Linked DNA regions of Homo sapiens: region 2 is linked to region 1. Evidence: fine-mapped expression QTL. A gene starts in region 1. The other region holds a variant in brackets. All regions are shown on one strand. Distances are between the middles of the regions.

Region 1 (2,922 bases):
AGGAGAAAACATGGTCTATATTTCTTTTTAATAAATTTTTAATTAACAGTTTGTAAAACCATGGAGATTATTTTTCAGTAAAAGGATAAACCAAGCAATCTTCAGTGTAAGGAATAAATAGACAGCAGGCAGAAAGTTGGTTCACAATCATTGCTGTTTTGCAGCATTTTGTAAAGTTCCTAAGTCAGTGACAGCTTGTGCTCTCAACTATGCCTCTGGTAAGCCAGAATAAACTCCCAACTAATTAACTAAAGGGAGAAAACCTTGCTAAATCCTATTTACTTTTTGTAAGATACCAGGACGAAGGCTATCTATTGAGTTGCATTTATCATTTCAAGCGCTTTGGAAGTACTTAGTGCTTTCAAGCCATTTTGATTAATTTAAGCTCTTAGAATAAATTAATAAGTATTCACCCAGAGGCCAGAATAAGTAGGTGTAGTAATATTTCAGTGGCTTGGGCACTTTGTCAGATGTATTCTGACTTGGAAGGCAGAGCTTCACTGGCCACAGTTGTCCCCTTAGGTTGGCCTTGCCACAATTGCAGTGGAGCTGTAGCAGGGTGCCTGGCACAAGAGGCTTGAAATACATGTAGAAAATTTTGCTTGAAAGGTAAGTCAAACTGTAGCTATCATTTGGAAGTAGTAGAGTTATGAACTATGATCGTACCAATACTTTTTTAAAAGGGTTTTATCAAGCTTGCAGTTTATTTAAAATCATTTTGCTTTGTTGGACTTTAAATTCCTAACATTGGAGTGTGGGTTTTTAAAAATTCTGTAAACCAGTTTAATTCACACTTATTTTTCCACTGAACTTTGAATTTTCTAGTGGATTTTATCTGTTTAGTGAACTTACAGATCTGCATCTGGCTTTGTAGTTTGCTAGCCTTTCCAGACTACATAGCAATATATCTCTTTCATATGAGGGTTAATGAGTAGCCAGATTACACTCACCAGTCCATTGTTACATTAAGAGCCACAGAGTTTGCTATCTCCCTTCCATCCCCTTTCATACTTTTTTCCTTTCACAGTTTTATTTGATATAGTAAAGCAACTTTTAAAAATTGAGATTTTTATATTTTAAAACAATATATAGTTTTTAATTTTGCTCCCTTGTAGGTTCTTACTCTATTTTATTGTTAGTTTTAAATTATGGCAATTAATATGAGCTTAGTAATGGTCTAATCAAGGTAGATCTTGCTCCTTGCCTCTTCATCCCCACTTTCCTATACCGTTTTTACCTGCAGATTTGCATGTTTGACCTAGCAGAATAATTGGGTCCACAGCAACATGGGCGTGCCTCCCTTAGAAACACTTGGTTTCATGTATGACTCATAAGCTGAAGCACAGACACCACTTCCCCAATCTACAGGAGCCATTTTAACAGCTAAAACTTGTCGGATTGCTTTTTATTTTCAAGCTCAAAAGACGATAGAGAAAGAATACTTGAAGGTAACTTGTTACAATTTTGTATGTTTGCTTCTGGCTTTTTCTTGAGCTGATAAACAGAGGGTGGTTCTTACCTGTTGAAGAACATGGCTGAATGTGTTCTTTAACCCTCTGATAAAATGTGTGTGGTCAGTCACATGCCTGATTGAACTTAATTGCTAGGGGGAAACAAAGCACTGAAATTCTGGAAAGTTTTAGATCTTCTTGCTAAAGCATTTTGTATGTCTTTGTGATTTTTTTTCTATGTAATTTAAGAATAAAAGAGGTTTTTTGTTTGTTTATTTGTTTTTAAGTACCACAAAGCAAACTAAGGTCAAATTTTAATTTAAAAAACCTAATTGTATTTTTTGGGGTAGTTGAAGTTACAGTTAAGTAAACCGTATTATTCCTGTGTGATATAGATGTTAAATATCCAGGGGCAGTGGCTTTGTTTTGGCATTTTAGCTAAGGGTGAAGTTTTGGGACAACTCAGCCATAGGTGTTGCTCATTGACTGTTATTTATTTATTTTTTTCTCCCTCTCTGTTTTTTAAAGTTAATGAAATTATATTAAATGTTTCATTTTGGAAACCCAATGGAAATTTAAATGAATTGTTATTTAGATAATAAGTAAAAATGAATATTAGATTATTTAGATAACAAGTAAAAGTGAATATTAAATAGAGGAAGAAAGACTAGAATGATTCATTTACTATTAGAAAAAAATGAAGTTTTATAATTCACACTGAAAACTTGTTCTGAGTAACAACCTTAGAAGTAAAGCTGTCTTCTAAGGAAACGTAGTTATTTCAATTTTGTGTAAAAAGAAAAAGTGATGAGTATTGGCCTTCCTTTTGTATTACTGTTCTTAAAATTTGCCTGCCTTGAATTAAAAACCTTCTGTAAATGAAAAGATTGCTCAGTCTTTTCCTGAAGTACTTGTCATTGTAGTTATGAGATTTTGGCTGGCAAGTATACATCCTACTGTGCCTTAAAGTTCTAGGTGCTCTGTAAAGATGAGTGCAGTAGTATTTTATTTCTGAAACATATTTATGAAGATAAAATTGGAATATGCAGTGATTCCAAAAAATAAAGTTTTTGGATATAAAACTTGCCAAATCATTTCTTGTTGACCAAAATGATATTTAGCTAGTTCTTTGAGAATTTGCTATGCACTTACTAAGTGCTTGAAGGCCTGTCAGATTAAAGGGAAGAGACAAAGGCAATCAGTTATTATTTCTTACTCTTTTGTAAGGATTGTTGATATTAACAGATCTCAATTTTGCGGTCTTACAAGAAAGACACAGCGGACATTTTACCAATTCAGCTGAGCCATTTGCTATCATCTTTGTTTGCATATTGCTGGTTTAGTCAGCCTTTGAGTAAGCAAAAGCTGTATTTACTTCTAGTCTGGTCTGTGTGAAAAATCTAATGAAGACTTTTCTATTTTTTTTTTTAACTTTTTTAAGGTGGTGATCCATAAGAGAAAAATCAAGAGG
Region 2 (2,922 bases), 36 kb after region 1:
TAAGATATTTAAAACAGTATTTGTCATCAATATAATCCTTTTTGTCATCACTGTGGGCACACAGGTTTGGGAGGTACAGAAGAAATTTTAGACAATGGTTATTTCCCCAGAAGAGGTTTTGCTTCAGTTGTCTTGGTGCCTGGCACATTGCCTTGCAAATAATTGGTACTCAAACATGTATTCAGTTGAATTAAGGGGACACAGTTTTCAAATGTAAGACAATGTACTACAATTCATGCTAAATTGGTTGTACGGGCAGTAATTGCTGTGTTTTTGAAGGGAGCAGTCCTTGTAGTTTGAGGCATAGATGTTGGGAGGCTTTGTGAAATAAATGGGGCTTGAGCATTGAATGGAAAAGATGGGATTGAATGCTGGCAAGTAGAAGATGGGTGTGTTGCAGGCATAGGAAATAACAGAAGTTGAGAAAAGAGGCAAGACTGAATAGTTTGTGTGGAGGAACATAAGGCAGGTCTACTACAGAGGAATTGGGTTGGATAATAATTTAAGGAAAAAGGTATTATAAATAATAATAAGTACAAGGCCAAATGTATCTATCTGTGATCAATTTAAATCAAAACACTTTTTTTTTCCCTCTTCTAGATATGGTACATTGCTCAAAAACCACCTGAATGTGCTAAAAATACTTTCCCAGTGTTGGAGTTAAACTTCCTGTTAAAAGGGAGTGGATGAGAGTGGGAAATTTGCTGGGTTGGAATTTAGTGTAGTGAGTAGAAATATCATCTGAATTGGATTCTTAATTCTTATTTTATTTTGAGTTCTTGCTAGGAAAATCACAGTCATCCATGATGACCCCTAAAGCCCAGGACACATAGGGACTTGGCTTTACAGAAATTAGGAAACCGATTAAGTGATTTGGCTGACACATACTAGCTGGATTTACGTTTTCAGGGAAACTGATTCACTAGATCAGCTTCATCCCCAGACTTGTCTCTTTAAAATTATTAGGAAATTACTGGCCATCCTTTCCTTGGAGTCAACTTCTTTTTTAAAGTGTTTGTAATAAAACTGTAAATGCTAATTCAAAGAACTAATGTTATTTAATGTGATTATTTTTGTATCTTTCTTTTCAGGCCATAATCATTTGATGAAAATGTAGTAAGATTGTGATAAACACCTAAAGAATTTTTTCCTTTTGTTAGTATTGATAACTTTTTTTTTAAATAGGCAAACATCTTTGGCAGACATTTTAAAAGCCTTTGTCCCTTCGCTGTGAAATTGTTTTCACTACTAAGTTGCGTTTCTGTTTTTCTACTATTGTAAAGTGCAGTTCTTTGCATGTTCTAATTTGCCATGACGTGGTCA[AG/G]TGCTGTTTCCTTCCTGTTGCTTGCAAGCCTATACTAGAGATAAGGATACATTTCAGTGCATTAAAAAAGAAGCCACTGAAGACAGGCTTAAGCATGGTAATTTTTAAAACATTTTACTTATCAGAAGCCTTTTTAAAGAACAGAAAGAGTGGGCTTTAATTTCTGCTTATTTTTAAAAGATTTAAAAATACTTCTTACTAAACTTTAAATGTATTTGATTTTAAATCCTTATATAAATCCTCTTAAAGGTGAAAATATATACGTTGTGAAATTACTCATTGGGTAGCAGTTTCTATGTATGTGCTTTGCTGAGTTGGTGAAAAGAAGGAAATTGTTTATATATCCTTTATTGCGATTACAACCCTCATTATTGCTGGGGTTTTTTGACCTTTTTTTTTTTTTTAATATTGAGTACTTTTAACAGTAGTTTAACTGGAGAGTGGGGGAGAGAGGCATAATTTTCAGTAGTGACAGATGATCTTAGCAGGAGCAAACTGTTCAAATAAAATATGTAACTTTTAAAAAAGAGCGTATGTGCATTAGTCGTGTCGATTTTATTTAAAAACGTTAATAATAAAAAAATGCTTTAGCGATACTGCCCTCTGTATCAGTTATTATATCCTAAGTGGGTGATTGCTTTTTCATAACTAATCTGAGCTTTTGTTTTTTAGGCCAAGAAGCTTGAGAGAAGAAAAATTTCAGAAAAATTGTCTCAATTTGACTAGAATATCAATGAACCAGGAAAACTGAAGCACCTTCCCTAAAGAAAACTTGGGTATACAATTACTCCACAGACAGAGCTGAGGGTTTTTTACCCAAATCAGTCACTGGATTTTGCTGCCTGATACGTGAATCTTCTTGGAATTTTTCTCATGTGGATCTAAGGGGAATGCTTTATTATGGCTGCTGTTGTCCAACAGAACGACCTAGTATTTGAATTTGCTAGTAACGTCATGGAGGATGAACGACAGGTATGAGATTCAGAGAAAATTTCATTTTAATGACTTTATTATGATTTTTCTATTCATATCAGAAAATTATTTCCTTTAAAAGACAATGAGAGAAACTTTATTGAAAGTAAAAATTTATAGATGAAATATTTGGAGGAAATATTATACTATGTTTTAAGCACCAGTTAATTCATGAAGAATAAGTCTTATCCTTAGCTTTGATATGGTAACAAGGAAGTAATACCTTTGGGATTCAGCTTGTTTTTTTGTAAAATGAGACTTAACACTAAATGCCTTAAGTAATTATTTTTAAGTACTTTGAAAAGTTCTAGAGAATATACTGCCTTTTAATGTATGTGGTTAATTAATGTTTGTAATCATGGGCTACTTCTTCAAGTAGATGAGACAACGTTAGCGGTCCCATAATCATACATCATTTCAGTCCAAAGCATGTGACTCTGAGGAAGTTACTTAACTTCTCTAGATCTAGATTTCATCATCTGCAGAATGAGGGGATTGAACTGAAGAATTTCTAAATCGGCTTTCAGTGAATTTATATAAGATGTGCAAATTACTGTTTTCAGTACATAAAAAAGATCTAGGAGATACTGAGTAAAGGATCTAAGATTAATTTTAGTCTCCTTCCC

The links.
Region 2: its variant is fine-mapped to the expression of ELF1 in whole blood (INTERVAL, PIP 0.99).

Annotation. Positions count from the first base shown.
Region 1 is chr13:41,017,754-41,020,675 of GRCh38, reverse strand. ELF1 (E74 like ETS transcription factor 1) reads left to right here and starts at 1,360. Exons shown (of 9, transcript NM_172373.4): 1 at 1,360-1,448. RefSeq lists an enhancer at 1,366-1,475.
Region 2 is chr13:40,981,357-40,984,278 of GRCh38, reverse strand. ELF1 (E74 like ETS transcription factor 1) reads left to right here. Exons shown (of 9, transcript NM_172373.4): 2 at 1,997-2,296. The coding sequence starts at 2,225. Among named protein-coding and RNA genes, the nearest start is that of ELF1, 36 kb to the left of the region's middle. The variant AG/G (reference allele first, on the strand shown) is at 1,324.